4 linked regions of the Homo sapiens genome follow. The protein of the gene in region 1 purifies or fractionates together with the protein of each later gene. This does not show direct contact. Each region holds a gene or a part of one and is shown in the gene's direction. Other genes may lie near its edges.

Region 1 (4,098 bases):
TTTAGTTTCACATAATAAAATTAGTTAAAATGTACTTATACTATCATAAAATCCCCTGCAAAAAAACTTTGCTTTTCTCCTGTTAATCTAAATTGAGGTTAGTTTTTAATTTGTTTGTAGATGCTTATGGCTAGACTTAGAATTGGCAATCCCCTCAGCTCTAGTTTTTAGAATATGAGTTACTCAAGGTCAAGGCCAGGATTATAGCTAGACTTAAGTACATTTAAATGTCAGAGCCACTGCCAGAGGCTGCCCTGTGTCATCAGATGGCTTGGTCTACCCTCTGTCAGGCTTGTAATAATTGCCCAAACCTTCTAAATTAAGTATCTTGTCTGAGGAAGTTTCTCTCTCACACATATTGACACTCATATTTTCTTTTAGAATCTTTTGAAGACTGTTGTTAAAAAAAGTCAAAACTACAACATATTTCAGTTGGAAAATTTGTATGCAGTAATCAGCCAATGTATTTATCGGCATCGCAAGGACCATGATAAAACATCACTTATTCAGGTAAACTCTTGAGTGGAAACTTTTTACAAATGCTCTTGTGGTCACATTAATATATCACTTATGTAGGATTGTTGAGGCTTTATTTAATCTGTGTAAGAAACTGATTGTAGGAACTTAAAGACCATCTTTCTATTTCCAAAGTTGATGTCCCATTCCATAAAGATCATTTTTAATATGTGGATTATGAATTATTTCTAAATGCAAGTGAGTTTAGTATTTTTCCAATCTATAACTTAATTAGTTTGTTTGTTTATTTATTTATTTATTTAGAGACAGGGTCTCTGTCGCCCAGGCTGGAGTGCAGTGGTGCGATCTCAACTCACTCACTGCAGCCTCCACCTCCAAGGTTCAAGCGATCCTCCTGCCTCAGCCTCCCAAGTAGCTGGGACCACAGGCACCTGCCATCATGCCCAGCTAATTTTTGTGTTTTTTGTAGAGATGAGGTTTCACTATGTTGCCCACGCCGATCTTGAGCTCCTGAGCTCAAGCCATCCAGCCACTTCAGCCTCCCAAAGTACTGGAATTACAAACGTGAGCCACTGCACCCAGCCAATAGTTTGTGTCTTTAATAAATAGTGGAACATAAACTATGAATACCCCTTTTGTGTGTATGTATTAATGAAGAATAATAGCTTCTTTTAAGACTTGTCAGCCAGGCACAGTGGCTCATGCCTGTAATCCCAGCACTTGGGGAAGCCAAGGCGGGTGGATTGCTTGAGCCCAGGAGTTCAAGACTAGCCTGGCCAACATGGTGAAACCCCATGTCTACTAAAACAACAAAAACTAGCCAGATGTGGTGGTGTGCACCCATAGTCCTAGCTACTCGGGTGGCTGAGGCATGAGAATCACTTGAACCTGGGAGGCAGAGGTTGCAGTGAGCCAAGATCAAGCTACTGCACTCCAGCCTGGCTGACAGAGTAAGACTCTGTATGACAAAAAAAAAAAAAAAAGACTTATGTACTTAATCTTCCTTTATAGTAGGTATTATAGTGTTAATTAGAGCATTAATACTTATTTTTGAGACAGGATCTTTCTCTGTGTGCAGTGGCAAGAACATAGCTCACTATAACCTGGAACTCCTGAGCTCAGGCAATCCTGCCTCAGCTTCTCAAGTAACTGAGATTATAGGCAAGCACCACCACACTGGGCTAATTTTTAAATTTTTTGTAGAGATGGAGGTTTTGCTATGTTGCCTAGGATGGTCCCAAATTCGTAGCTTCAAGCGGTCCTCCCGCCTCAGCCTCCCAAAGTGCTGGCATTAACAGGCAGGAGCCACCATGCCTGGCCTTATTATTATTTTTAATAACAGATCATTTCACTAGAGAGTGCTAAATTTTAAAAAAAGATATTACTTACATATGCATATTATTGGTAACTACAAAATATAAAAATGATAACCATTAGTATATATATAGTATTTAGTATACCTACTAAAGTATACTATGTAGTATATATATAATATTGATACCTACAAAGTGTAAAATACTAAACTCTAACTACATCAGTACCTTGATTAATACTATTTGAATTTAACATAAGATGAATGCACCCCAGACTCATTTCAAAGTTATTTAAATAATGAAGTCCTACAGGTAAAATCTATGTGGCAGTCTTAAATACTGAACTGAATGTTTATTTTCACTATCAAATATATACCTGAATATTAATATTCTTAAGGTTGTTTACTGAAAAAGTAATGAAATGTTTCTTTAGCTTATTCCATATTGAAACTTACTATTTGCTCTTCCTCCCCTTTATCTAGAAAATGGAGCAAGAGGTAGAAAACTTCAGTTGTTCCAGATGATGATGTCATGGTATCGAGTATTCTTTATATTCAGTTCCTATTTAAGTCATTTTTGTCATGTCCGCCTAATTGATGTAGTATGAAACCCTGCATCTTTAAGGAAAAGATTAAAATAGTAAAATAAAAGTATTTAAACTTTCCTGATATTTATGTACATATTAAGATAAATGTCATGTGTAAGATAACTGATAAATATTGGAACTTTGCTAGAACAAGACCCTGTAGTAATAGTAATAATAGTTGAAGTTTGGCCAACTCTTAATAAAGTTATTTTGGTAACTAATGTTTTATGGCACTTAAGAATAATTAGCAGCGTTAAATTTTGTTTGTATTAAGCACTTTTAATTTTATCCTTCCTAAAAATAGTTTATTGTATCTGACAAGAAACTTACTTAACCATTGTGTCCTTCCCATCTTTTTTGTCATCTTTGTTTTCTTCAAATGCCCTCCTCCCATCTGCCTTGAGATTCCCTCGTCTTCACTTAAAAGCCAGAGTGCAAGTCATGATTTGCGGGAGGGCTCTTGAACCACTTCTGGCTGCACCACAATTCTGTACTTGAGTATCACAGTCATTGTTTTTGAGACAAACATTTTTATAATTCTAATTTGGGTTAATAAAGATTTTAAATATTTCTTGGTTTACTTTTGTAATTATATACACAACAAATGTATTAATAACTACCTTGTTAAACACCTTTTAATAGCACAAGGTTTTTATATTTGCAAGCTGTTGATATCTTTCTAAAACTGTTTAGGTTATAGTCTATTGATACTTTTTATATACAATTTTATAAATATAAATATTATAATTTTATATTAATGGTACCAAAAATACATTTCTTAAGGTTAAAAGCATGCACTTCCATGCATACTTGCTTTTGGGGAGAGTGGGGAGAAGACATTCTAATAATCAGTTTGTGAAATAGCTTCTGTTGGAAACCTTTTGAGGGGAATAAGGAATGGTCATCTAAAATGAGAGATTCTGGATTTTAATGCAGTTCAAAGTTGAGCTGTATTTTTGTTGTTGATTTATCTGGATTTTTTTTAAAGCCTTCTAAAACCCAGTGAATTCAATACCTTAATTAGTACATACTATCTTATGTAATGCATAAAGCAATGCCAGTCACTGAGAACATTTAAATATATTTATATTCCTGGAGATACACATTCTCATTTTTGTTGGTTTATTATAAATTATTCTTCTAGATGCATCTTTTATAACTAGGATTTCATTTTGTGTGTATAGCTTATGTAATAAATTTTAAAGGTGAAAACTCTCTTAAATTTGTTTCTATTTCTTAAGTATTTTAAAACATAGCAAAGATAATTCTGTGCAAAAGAAGTGTAAAGTCTGTTCTTTCATATATTACTGTGAAAATTTAAAGTGCTGTTGACACTGGAATGTTTTTATATGGTACATGTATTTTAGGTACAACGACTAAAGTGCTTCCTGAAATGTCTTCTACAGATTTTAGAAGTGTTATGTCTACATTCCTATGTAGAGTTTGAAAACCATGCTGAAATTGCAGTGTTGAATGTTATCTCCCATTTGTTGCTCAAAAGTGCAGTTAACGCAAGAAAAACAAAAGGAACTCAGAAAGGAAAAAGTGAAATTCTCTTTATTTACAAATGCCATGATTTTATATGTAGGAAATCCTTTTTTGAGACAGAGTCTTGCTCTGTCGCCTAGGCTGGAGTGCAATGGCATGATCTCGGCTCACCACAACCTCTTCCTCCCAGGTTCAAGCGATTCTCCCGCCTCAGCCTCTTGAGTAGTTGGGACC
Region 2 (4,009 bases), on another chromosome or scaffold:
GGAGGCTGAGGCACGAGAATCACTTGAGCCCTGAGGCACAGGTTGCAATGAGCCGAGATAGTGCCTCTGCACTCCAGCCTGGGTGACAGAGTGAGACTCCATCTCAAAAAAAAAAAATAAATAAATAATAAAAATCAAAACAGGAGTGGTTAACATAGAAGGGTGCCTAGGAGTTAGAAAAAAATATTGGTCATTGACAAAAATTTTGAGACTTGAGTTGTATCCAATTGGAGAAGGCTCTTCCACAAACACTTTATAAATTATATAATTTTCCTTGCTAAGCAGCATTTTGTTTGATTATAATTTCTTTGTTTGGAGTTTGGTAATATGCTCAAGTTCACAGGGTGAGTAAGTGACAGGGCTGGGACTAGACTCCTGTTGTGAATTCTTCTAGAGCCCACACTCTTCATTCTGTTCCTCTCTGCCTGGAGCAGACTTTGTGTTCTTTAATTCACTTTTCTTCTCAATACTTCCAAATATATCTCAGGGGTTAAAAAGAAGGATTCTGTGCCCAAAGAATTGGATTGGAATACATAGCCAAAGCAATAAAGAATATCAAAATAAATGAAAGCTACAAATAAAGAGGAGAAAGAGATATTATTCAGTGACAATATGATCATCTACATATGCACAGTCAGATAACCTCAAAATCAGGGACCACACAATCATCTTGAACAGCTCCTTCCCCTTAAGAAGTAAATCAATTAAAACAGAAGTCACATAAGAGGCTAGTGCTGGCTATTGAAAAGAGTAAATCAGCATCATTTTTCTCTGACAACCCACCAGCTACCTTGGACTCCCTGCTTTGTGTTATAATTTCTTTACCTCACATTAGCCCTGGGGCACAGACTTGCAAGGTTTGCAGTAGGAACGCTGCCCAAGAGTTTGCAGGGATGTGGCATTTCCCAGGAAGCCTTTATTCAGAGAGGCAAGAGAAAATAAGGAGGACACCCATAAATAAATACTGGAAAGACAACCACACCAAAAGATAACGGGGCAATCTACCCAAACCTCTTCTCAGCCTAGAATGCCCCAGGCAGTGCAGTCAGACTGAGCATCCTCTCTTTTACCCTTCAGAGTTCTCAGTGAAGTGAGAGTTTTGACCTAAGGTGACCTCAGTTAACTAGAGGGAGGATCCAGGGTCTGGCAGATATCAGGGAGGACCTTGAATGAAGAACAGGAGGAGCCAGAACAGTGATGTCCCATAGAAACCCGACTCCGCTGTCTGCCCTCACAGGACCCAAACATCCCTGGCCTAATGTGGCTCATCAAAACTTCAGCCTAGATCTCGGAGGACCTTGATCTGAGCAGGATTCATGGCATGGAATGTGGAGTCCCAGGACTGGCCAGCAGCGAAGTGAGGTTCTTGAGTGAGTAAAAAAGGGAAAACTAAACCCACAAATAAGGGGACTTCTCGGAGCCCAATCCATATTTTTAACCCTGGAAAGCCCTAGGCAGAGCTATAAAACTGGCTTGCCTCTCATTTCAGCCTGGCGGATCTCAGGGAGGGGAAGGCTTTGTCTAACAGGGCAGCCTCAGTTCTTCAGAGGTCTCTTGGCCCTAACTAGAGTCAAGATGAAGACCAAGCCGGTGCGGCATCTCAGGCCTGTAATCCCAGCACACTGGGAGGCCGAGGCGAGTGAACTGTTTGGGCCCCCCCAGGAGTTCGAAACCAGCCGGGACAACATGGCGAAAACCTGTCTCTACAAAAAAAAAAAAAATGGCGGGGCAGCAGTGGAGCACCCCTGTAGTCCCAGCTACCCAGGAGGCTGAGGTGGGAGGATCGCTTAAGCCCTAGGGGTCAAGGCTGCAGTGAGCCAAGGTCACGCCACTGCGCTCCAGCCTGGGTGACAGAGAGAAACACTGTCTCAAATTAGCCGGGCGTGGTGCGGCGCACGTGTAGTCCCAGCTATTCGGGAGGCGGAGGCAGGAGAATCGCTTGAACCCGGGAGGCAGAGGTTGCAGTGAGCCAAGATAGCGCCACTGCACTCCCGCCTGGGTGACAGAGCGAGACTCCATCTCAAAATAAATAAATAAATAAATATAAACTTTTTTTTTTTAATTTTAAGGCAGGGCTCTGGCTCACGCTTGTAATCCCAACATTTTGGGAGGACGAAGCCAGCCTCATCGCTTAAGCACAGGAGTTCGAGGACTGGGAGGTGGAGGTTGTGGTAAGTCAAGATTGCGCGGCTACACTCCAGCCTGGAAGACAGAGAGAGCCCCTGTCACAAAAAAAAAAAAAAAAAAAAAAAAAAGAAAGAAAGAAAGAAAGAAATATGAGGCCCACCGGTGCTAACCAGGGAACCTCTCTCCAAAAGAAGGGCCCACCAAAAGCCCTAACCCTGTTTCAGGTCTTTGAAGCCCCAGGACATGGTCCGATAACATGCCTAGACTTCCCCTCTAGGGACTATGGGAGGGGAGGATTTTGGAGGTTGGCGGACTTCGCTCAGTAGAGGTGTTACTCTGCTCCGCTTAGTATCAAGGTGAGAACCCTGAATAAGGACCTAGGGACCACTGACTCCAGAACAGTGGGGTCCCAGCGTGTCACCCGCTGCTGTCAGCCCTCGGAGACCCCGAGCGGGGTGTGGCTCAGCCTCACTTCCGCTTTGAAAGTGAGGCAGTTGGCCTGACGGGTGCAATAGCTTCAGTCAGGTTCGTGGCCTAGCGTGAGTCTTAGAACTGATCCGGAGTAAAGGTAAGAACCCTCAGCGGGGACTGAAGGGACAATCCATGTTTTTAACCCTGGAAAGCCCTAGGCGGAACTATAAAACTGGCTTGCCTCTCATTTCAGCCTGGCGGGTCTCAGGGAGGGGAAGGCTTTCTCTAACAGGGCAGCCTCAGTTCTTCAGAGGTCTCTTGGCCCTAACTAGAGTCAAGATGAAGACCAAGCCGGTACGGCGTCTCAGGCCTGTAATCCCAGCACACTGGGAGGCCGAGGCGAGTGAACTGTTTGGGCCCCCCCAGGAGTTCGAAACCAGCCGGGACAACATGGCGAAAACCTGTCTCTACAAAAAAAAAAAAAAATGGCGGGGCAGCAGTGGAGCACCCCTGTAGTCCCAGCTACCCAGGAGGCTGAGGTGGGAGGATCGCTTAAGCCCTAGGGGTCAAGGCTGCAGTGAGCCAAGGTCACGCCACTGCGCTCCAGCCTGGGTGACAGAGAGAAACACTGTCTCAAATTAGCCGGGCGTGGTGCGGCGCACGTGTAGTCCCAGCTATTCGGGAGGCGGAGGCAGGAGAATCGCTTGAACCCGGGAGGCAGAGGTTGCAGTGAGCCAAGATTGCGCCACTGCACTCCCGCCTGGGTGACAGAGAGAGACTCCATCTCAAAATAAGTAAATAAATAAATAAATATAAACTTTTTTTTATTTTTTATTTTAAGGCAGGGCTGTGGCTCACGCTTGTAATCCCAACATTTTGGGCGGAGGAAGCCAGCCTCATCGCTTAAGCACAGGAGTTCGCGGACTGGGAGGTGAGCTGCCCCTGTAGTCCCAGCTACCCAGGAGGCTGAGGTGGGAGGATCGCTTAAGCCCTAGGAGTCAAGGCTGCAGTGAGCCAAGGTCACGCCACTGCGCTCCAGCCTGGGCGACAGAGAGAGACACTGTCTCAAATTAGCCGGGCGTGGTGGGGCACAGGTGTAGTCCCAGCTATTCGGGAGGTGGAGGCAGGAGAATCCCTTGAACCCGGGAGGCAGAGGTTGCAGTGAGCCAAGATCGCGCCACTGCACTCCCGCCTGGGTGACAGAGCGAGACTCCATCTCAAAATAAATAAATAAATAAATAAATAGATATAAACTTTTTTTTTTTTTAATTTTAAGGCAGGGCTCTGGCTCACGCTTGTAATCCCAACATTTTGGGAGGACGAAGCCAGCCTCATCGCTTAAGCACAGGAGTTCGAGGACTGGGAGGTGGAGGTTGTGGTAAGTCAAGATTGCGCGGCTACACTCCAGCCTGGAAGACAGAGAGAGCCCCTGTCACAAAAAAAAAAAAAAAAAAGAAAGAAAGAAAGAAAG
Region 3 (3,500 bases), on another chromosome or scaffold:
TTCAAGCGATTCTCCTGCCTCAGCCTCCCGAGCAGCTGGGATTACAGGTGCCTGCTATGACGCCTGGCTAATTTTTGTATTTTTAGTAGAGACGGGGTTTCACCATCTTGGCCAGGCTGGTCTTGAACTCCTGACCTCAGGTGATCCGCCCGCCTCAGCCTCCCAAAGTGCTGGGATTACAGGCGTGAGCCACTGCGTCCAGCCTCTGCTGATCATTTTTTAATAGAAATGGAGTGACTTCACCAGAGTCACACAGCCAGTTTGTAGAAGTATTGGCACTGAAGTTTTGAATCTAAATTCTTTATCTTTGCTCCAATCCAGGGAAAGAAAGGAAGGATTCCCTGTTTCAGGGGTGGAGCATAGATAGGAATGACCACAGAATTTATTGCCTAATCAGGACACTCAAAATGCAGTGAAGGGAAGTGCTATTATTATTATTTATTTATTTATTTATTTATTTATTTATTTTTGAGATGGAGTCTCGCTGTGTCACCCAGGCTGGAGTGCAGTGGCGTGATCATGGCTCATTGCAAGCTCCGCCTCCCGGGTTCACGCCATTCTCCTGCCTCAATCTCCCAAGTAGCTGGGACTACAGGCGCCCGAAACCATGCCCAGCTAACTTTTTGGATTTTTAGTAGAGACGGGGTTTCACTGTGTTACCCAGGATGGTCTCGATTTCCTGACCTTGTGATCCGCCCGCCTCGGCCTGGGATTACAGGCGTGAGCCACCGTGCCCGTCGTATGATTATGATGATGATGATGATTATTATTAGAAATGGAATCTCACTATGTCACCCAGGCTACAGTGCAGTGGTGCAATCTCAGCTCACTGCAATCTCCACCTCTCGAGTTCAAGCGATTCTCCGGCCTCAGTATCCCAAGTAGTTGGGATTACAAGCTTGAGCCACCATGCCCGGCTAATTTTTGTGTCTTTAGTAGAGACGAGGTTTCACCATGTTGGCCAGGCTGGTCTCAAACCTGATCGCAAGTGATATGCCCACTTCAGCCTCCCAAAGTGCTGGGATTACACTTTGAATCCTAAGCGCCTGGCCAGAGAATGCTATTGTTAATTGTACCTGGATGATAAAGCTTTTCCTTTGAGTAACTCAAGTGAGAAATCCTGGCTCTTCCAGTCCTAGGGCTCTCTGTGACTGATCTGCCAGCTTGCTTTCTGCCTCCTTCTGGACTCCTCTCCATGAAAAAGGGAGAATCTGCCTCACTCTCAGCAGCGTCAACTGAAAATCTGACAAAACCCCCAACCCAGCTGTGTGAGGTGGCTCATGCCTGTAATTCCAGCACTTTGGGAGGCTAAGGAAGGAGGATCTCTTGAGCCCAGGAATTTGGGCCAGCCTGGGTAACATAGCAAAACCTTGTCTCTACAGAAACATCAAAAAATTAACGGGACTTGGTGGCACGTGTCTGTGGTCCCAGCTACTCAGGAGGCTGAAGTGGGAGGATTGCATGAGCCCAGGAGGTCAGGGCTGCAGTGAGCCATGATTGCACCACTGCACTCCAACCTGGGTGAGAGAGCAAGACCCCCATCTCAAAAAAAAAAAAAAAAAAAACCACCCTAACCCCTAAGCCCCAGTTGGGTGACCCCTATTTCTCAGGGGCCCCAAGCCCCCTTTGCACTTTTATCTTCCACATCTGGAAATAGATTCTTCCACATTTAGCTGAGAAATTCAACAGACACTGGTTGAATAAGTCATAGAAGCCAGATGTTCTGACCCAGAAATAACGAAGTTGTTATGGCAGCAGAGCTCATCTTTGATTATGAACAAAGGCAAAAAGCAAACAAACAAAGGAGGCCTGGCATGGTGGCTCACGCCTGTAATCCCAGCACTTTGGGAGACCAAGGCGGGCAGATTACCTGAGGTCAGAAGTTCGAGACCAGCCTGGCCAACATGGTGAAACCCCGTCTCTACTAAAAATACAAAAAATTAGCCGGGTGTGGTGGCGGGCGCCTGTAGTCCCAGCTACTCGGGAGGCTGAGGCAGGAGAATGGCGTGAACCCAGGAGGCAGAGCTTGCAGCGAGCCGAGATTGCACCACTGCACCCCAACCTGGGCAACAAAGCAAGACTCCATCTCAAAAAAAAAAAAAAAGAAAAAGCCAGGTGTGGTGGCTCACACCTGTAATCCCAGCACTTTGGGAGGCCGAGGCGGATGGATCACAAGGTCAGGAGTTCGAGACCAGCCTAACCGACGTGGTGAAACCCCGGCTCTACTAAATACAAAAATTAGCCAGGCATGGTGGCACGCAGCTATAATCCCAGCTACTCAGGAGGCTGAGGCAGAAGAATCGCTAGAACCCGGGAGGCAGAGGTTGCAGTGAGCTGAGATTGTGCCACTGCACTCCAACCTGGGTGACAGAGCGAGACTCTGTTTCAAAAAAAAAAAAAGAAAAAAAAAATGGCCAGGCACAGTGGCTTACCCCTGTAATCCCAGCATTTTGGGAGACCAAGGCAGGTGGATCATCTGAGGTCAGGAGTTTGAGACCAGCCTGGCCAATGTGGTGAAACCCTGTCTCTACTAAAAATACAAAAGTTAGCCAGGCTTGGTGGCAGGTGCCTGTAGTCCCAGCTATTTGGGAGGCTGAGGCAGGAGAAGCGCTTGAACCCGGGAGATGGAAATTGCAGTGAGCCCAGATTGCGCCATTGCACTCCAGCCTGGGCGACAGAGCAAGACTGTCTCAAAAAAACAACAACAAAAAAGCAGGAAGCAGACTTTTTAGCTAGTTCAGCTATACTAATTGTGTACATGTCTTTAGTCTTATCATTTATATATATATATATATATATATACACACAAACACACAGTGGAGGTATGTCTTGCACAGGGACTAGCTTGTGAAGTTAGCGCAGAGAGATAACATGGGACACAGTTGAGTTGCCTTGACATTGCTCAGAAGGTTAGGTACACACGTCATGTGTACAGCTGTGTCCTGTACTCATAGCTATGAGTTCCTGCTGTATTGGTGATTTGTGTCCCATGTATAATTCTAAAGAAAGATTATATTTAGAGATGAAATCATACACGTATGTCTCTACTTATAACACTGCAGCCAGATTTTTTTTTTTTTTTTTAAAGAGATAGGGTGTCACTATGTTGCCCAGACTGGACTTGAACTCCTGGGCTTAAGCAGTCCTCCCACCTCAGCTTCCTAAGTAGCTGGAACCACAGGTGCACATCACCATGCCTGGGCACTTCAGCAAATTTAAGATGATTCTCGACTGGGCATAGTGGCTCATGCCTGTAATCCCAGCACTTTGGGAGGCCAAGGCAGGCGGATCACAAGGTCAGGAGATCGAGACCATCTTGGCTAACACAGTGAAACCCCGTCTCTACTAAAAATAGAAAAAAAAATTAGCCGGGCGTGGTGGGGGGTGCCTGTAGTCCCAGCTGATTAGGAGGCTGAGGCACAAGAATGGCATGAACCCGGGAGGCGGAGCTTGCAGTGAGCCGAGATCGTGCCACTGCACTCTAGTCTGGGCAACAGAGT
Region 4 (3,500 bases), on another chromosome or scaffold:
TGTGCATTGCCTAGATGGATGATGCTGACCCTGAGGAAAGAAACTATGACAACATGCTGAAAATGCTGTCAGATCTGAATAAGGACTTGGAAAAGCTATTAGAAGAGATGGAGAAAATCTCAGGTAGGATGTGTGAACCCAAAAGTATCTGAGACAGGTCTCAATCAATTTAGAAAGTTTATTTTGCCAAGGTTAAAGATGCACCTGTGACACAGCCTCAGGAGGTCCTCAGGACATATGTTCAAGGTTGGCAGGGTACAGCTTGCTTTTATACATTTTAGGGAGAGAGAATACATCAGTCAGTACCTGTAAGATGTACACTGGTTCGGCCGGGCGCGGTGGCTCACTCCTGTAATCCCAGCACTTTGGGAGGCCGAGACGGGTGGATCACGAGGTCAGGAGATCGAGACCATCCTGGCTAACACAGTAAAACCTCGTCTCTACTAAAAATACAAAAAATTAGCTGGGTGTGGTGGCAGGCACCTGTAGTCCCAGCTACTCGGGAGGCTGAGGCAGGAGAATGGCATGAACCCGGGAGGTGGAGCTTGCAGTGAGCCGAGATGGTGCCACTGCACTCCAGCCTGGGCGACAGAGTGAGACTCTGTCTCAAAAAAAAAAAAAAAAAAGATGTACATTGGTTCGATCTGGAAAGGTGGGACAACTCAAAGGGGGATGATTCCAGGTTATAGATAGATTTAAATTTTTTCTGATTGGCAATTGGTTGAAAGAGTTATGGTCTAAAGACCTGGAATCAATAGAAAGGAATGTCTGGGTTATGACGGTAAGGGGTTGTGGAGACCAGAGTTTTATCATGCAGATGAAGCCTCCGGGTAGCAGGCTTCAGAGGGAATAGATTGTAAAAAGCTTTCTTATCAAACTTAAGGTCTGTGTTCATGTTAATGCTAGTCACCTTTTCCTGAATTCCAAAAGAGAGGCAGGTATAACGAGGCATACCCAATTTCTCCTTCTCCTCACGGCTTGAACCAACTTTGGCCAAGCAATACACCCACCTTGGCCTCCCAAAGTGTTGGGATTACAGGTATGAGCCAGCGTGCCTGGCCAAATAGCTTTTATTCACTAGAGCAGACTTTAGAAAATTTCTCCTTAGAAATGTTTGCAATTTTTTGCCTATGTACTTTTGAACTATGAATAGCTGAGACACGTATCAGTTAATTTAGAGAGTTTATTTTGCCAAGTTTGGGGACACTTATCTGTGACACAGCCTCAGGGGGTCCTAATGACATGTGCCCAAGGTGGTCAGAGCACAGCTTGGTTTTATTTATTTATTTATTTATTTTAAGACAGAGTCTCGCTCTGTCGCCCAGGCTGGAGTACAGTGGCGTGATCTCGGCTCACTGCAAGCTCCGCCTCCCGGGTTCATGCCATTCTCCTGCCTCAGCCTCCCGAGTAGCTGGGACTACAGGCGCCCGCCACCACGCCTGGCTAATTTTTTGTATTTTTAGTAGAGACGGGGTTTCACTGTGTTAGCCAGGATGGTCTTGATCTCCTGACCTCGTGATCCGCCCGTCTCGGCCTCCCAAAGTGCTGGGATTACAGGCGTAAACCACCGCGCCTGGCCTTGTATTTTTAATAGAGACAGGGTTTCACCATGTTGGCCAGGATAGTCTTGATCTCCTGACCTTGTGATCTGCCCGCCTCAGCCTCCCAAAGTCCTGGGATTACAGGTGTGAGCCACCGCGCCTGGCCTTTTTTTTTTTTTTTTTTTGAGACGGAGTCTTGCTCTGTCGTCCAGGCTTGAATGCAATGATGTGATCTCAGCTCACTGCAACCTCCGCCTCTCGGGTTCAAGTGATTCCCCTGCCTCAGCCTCCTGGGTAGGTGGGATTACAGGCGCCTGCCACCATGCCCAGCTAATTTTTGTATTTTTAGTAGAGACGAAGTTTCACCATTTTGGCCAGGCTGGTCTCAAACTCCTAACCTCAGGTGATCCACCTGCCTTGGCCTCCTGAAGTGCTGGGATTACACGCGTGAGCCACCACGCCCAGCCAGCAAACAGTTTTATGTAGTGAAAAATCTATCAATATTTTCCTTTCTGATTTATTGCCATTATTTTGACACCTAGAAAGTCTTTCCTCAATCTGAGATCAGTGAAATATTTAGTTGTATTTTCTTCTACTTTTCTCCGTATTCCTTTTTAACATTTAATCCTAACCCATCTGGCATGCCAAATGACCTACGCTGCGTATTGCTTTTTTTTTTTTTTTGAGACAGAGTCGCGCTCTGTTGCCCAGGCTGGAGTGCAGTGGCACAATCTCGGCTCACTGCAAGCTCTGCCTCCCGGGTTCACGCCATTCTCCTGCCTCAGCCTCCCGAGTAGCTGGGACTACAGGTGCCCGCCACCATGCATGGCTAATTTTTTTTGTATTTTTAGTAGAGATGGAGTTTCCCCGTGTTAGCCAGGATGGTCTCAATCTCTTGACCTCATAATCTGCCTGCCTTGGCCTCCCGAAGTGCTGGGATTACAGGAATGAGCCACCGCACCCAGCCGCATATTGCATTTTTATATAAATCTGCTACAGGCTGGGCACGGTGGCTCACACCTGTAAACCCAGCACTTTGGGAAGCCGAGGCAGGAGGATCACAAGGTCAGGAGTTTGAGACCAGCCTGGGCAATATGGTGAAACTCCATCTCTAATAAAAATACAAAAATTAGCTGGGCGTGTTGGTGGATGCCTGGAATCCCAGCTACTCAGGAGGCTGAGGCAGGAGAATCACTTGAACCCAGGAGACGGAACTTGCAGTGAGCCGAGATCATACCATTGCACTGCAGCCTGGGTGACGGAGCGAGACTCTCTCTTCTGTGATAGTCCCTGGGCATAGAGGGAGGGTGTTTGTATCGTTTTAGCAGCAGGGCATTTGCAGTGTAACAGATCCGGGCCCAGTGCGATGCCAAATGAGGGAGATTCATATCTTTGGTCATCTGCAGAATACCATGATTTTAGTTTCCTTGGAAGCAAAATGAGGGGAGATAAGTTTGACAATTATAAGAGTAATTTGTGCATTAGAACAGAAAAAGGAACCTATTCCATTAGGGCACCAACGAAAAATATGAGGAAAAGTTACAATCTGGTCCTCTCTAGAGGATTATTGTAGCCAAGAAACAATGATTTAATTTGCACTCAAAAAAACGTTATGGCTGGGCGCAGTGGCCTGTAATCCCAGCACTTTGGGATTTTATTTATTTATTTATTTATTTTGAGACAGGGTCATACTCTGTCACCCAAACTGGAGTGCAGTAGTGCAATCTTGGCTCACTGCAACCTCCACCTCCCAGGCTCAAGGGATCCTTTTTTTCATCTCAGCCTCCTGAGTAGTTGCAACTACAGGTGCACACCACCATGCCCAGCTAAATTTTGTATTTTCTGTAAAGACAGGGTTTCAACATGTTGCCCAGTCTGATCTCAAACTTCTGAGCTCAAGTGATCCACCCACCTCAGCCTCCCAAAGTGCTGGGATTATAGGTACCAGCCACCTTGCCC

Evidence for each region. The genes of interacting proteins can lie anywhere in the genome.
Region 2: the proteins of ATAD2 (region 1) and MAGEB3 purify together in Homo sapiens (co-immunoprecipitation; one large-scale study listed by IntAct). This does not show direct contact.
Region 3: the proteins of ATAD2 (region 1) and ASF1B purify together in Homo sapiens (co-immunoprecipitation; one large-scale study listed by IntAct). This does not show direct contact.
Region 4: the proteins of ATAD2 (region 1) and SYCE3 purify together in Homo sapiens (co-immunoprecipitation; one large-scale study listed by IntAct). This does not show direct contact.

Annotation. Positions count from the first base shown.
Region 1 is NC_000008.11:123,319,350-123,323,447, reverse strand, and holds the end of ATAD2 (ATPase family AAA domain-containing protein 2), read left to right. Parts: intron 1-381; coding exon 382-510; intron 511-2,272; coding exon 2,273-2,314; 3' UTR 2,315-3,598; downstream 3,599-4,098. UniProt on the Homo sapiens protein: May be a transcriptional coactivator of the nuclear receptor ESR1 required to induce the expression of a subset of estradiol target genes, such as CCND1, MYC and E2F1.
Region 2 is NC_000023.11:30,229,448-30,233,456, forward strand, and holds the start of MAGEB3 (melanoma-associated antigen B3), read left to right. Parts: upstream 1-1,209; 5' UTR 1,210-1,370; intron 1,371-2,069; 5' UTR 2,070-2,171; intron 2,172-2,619; exon of another isoform or gene 2,620-2,695; intron 2,696-3,379; 5' UTR 3,380-3,469; intron 3,470-3,814; 5' UTR 3,815-3,916; intron 3,917-4,009.
Region 3 is NC_000019.10:14,130,090-14,133,589, reverse strand, and holds part of ASF1B (histone chaperone ASF1B), read left to right. Parts: intron 1-3,500. UniProt on the Homo sapiens protein: Histone chaperone that facilitates histone deposition and histone exchange and removal during nucleosome assembly and disassembly. Cooperates with chromatin assembly factor 1 (CAF-1) to promote replication-dependent chromatin assembly.
Region 4 is NC_000022.11:50,552,920-50,556,419, reverse strand, and holds part of SYCE3 (synaptonemal complex central element protein 3), read left to right. Parts: intron 1-14; coding exon 15-123; intron 124-3,500. UniProt on the Homo sapiens protein: Major component of the transverse central element of synaptonemal complexes (SCS), formed between homologous chromosomes during meiotic prophase.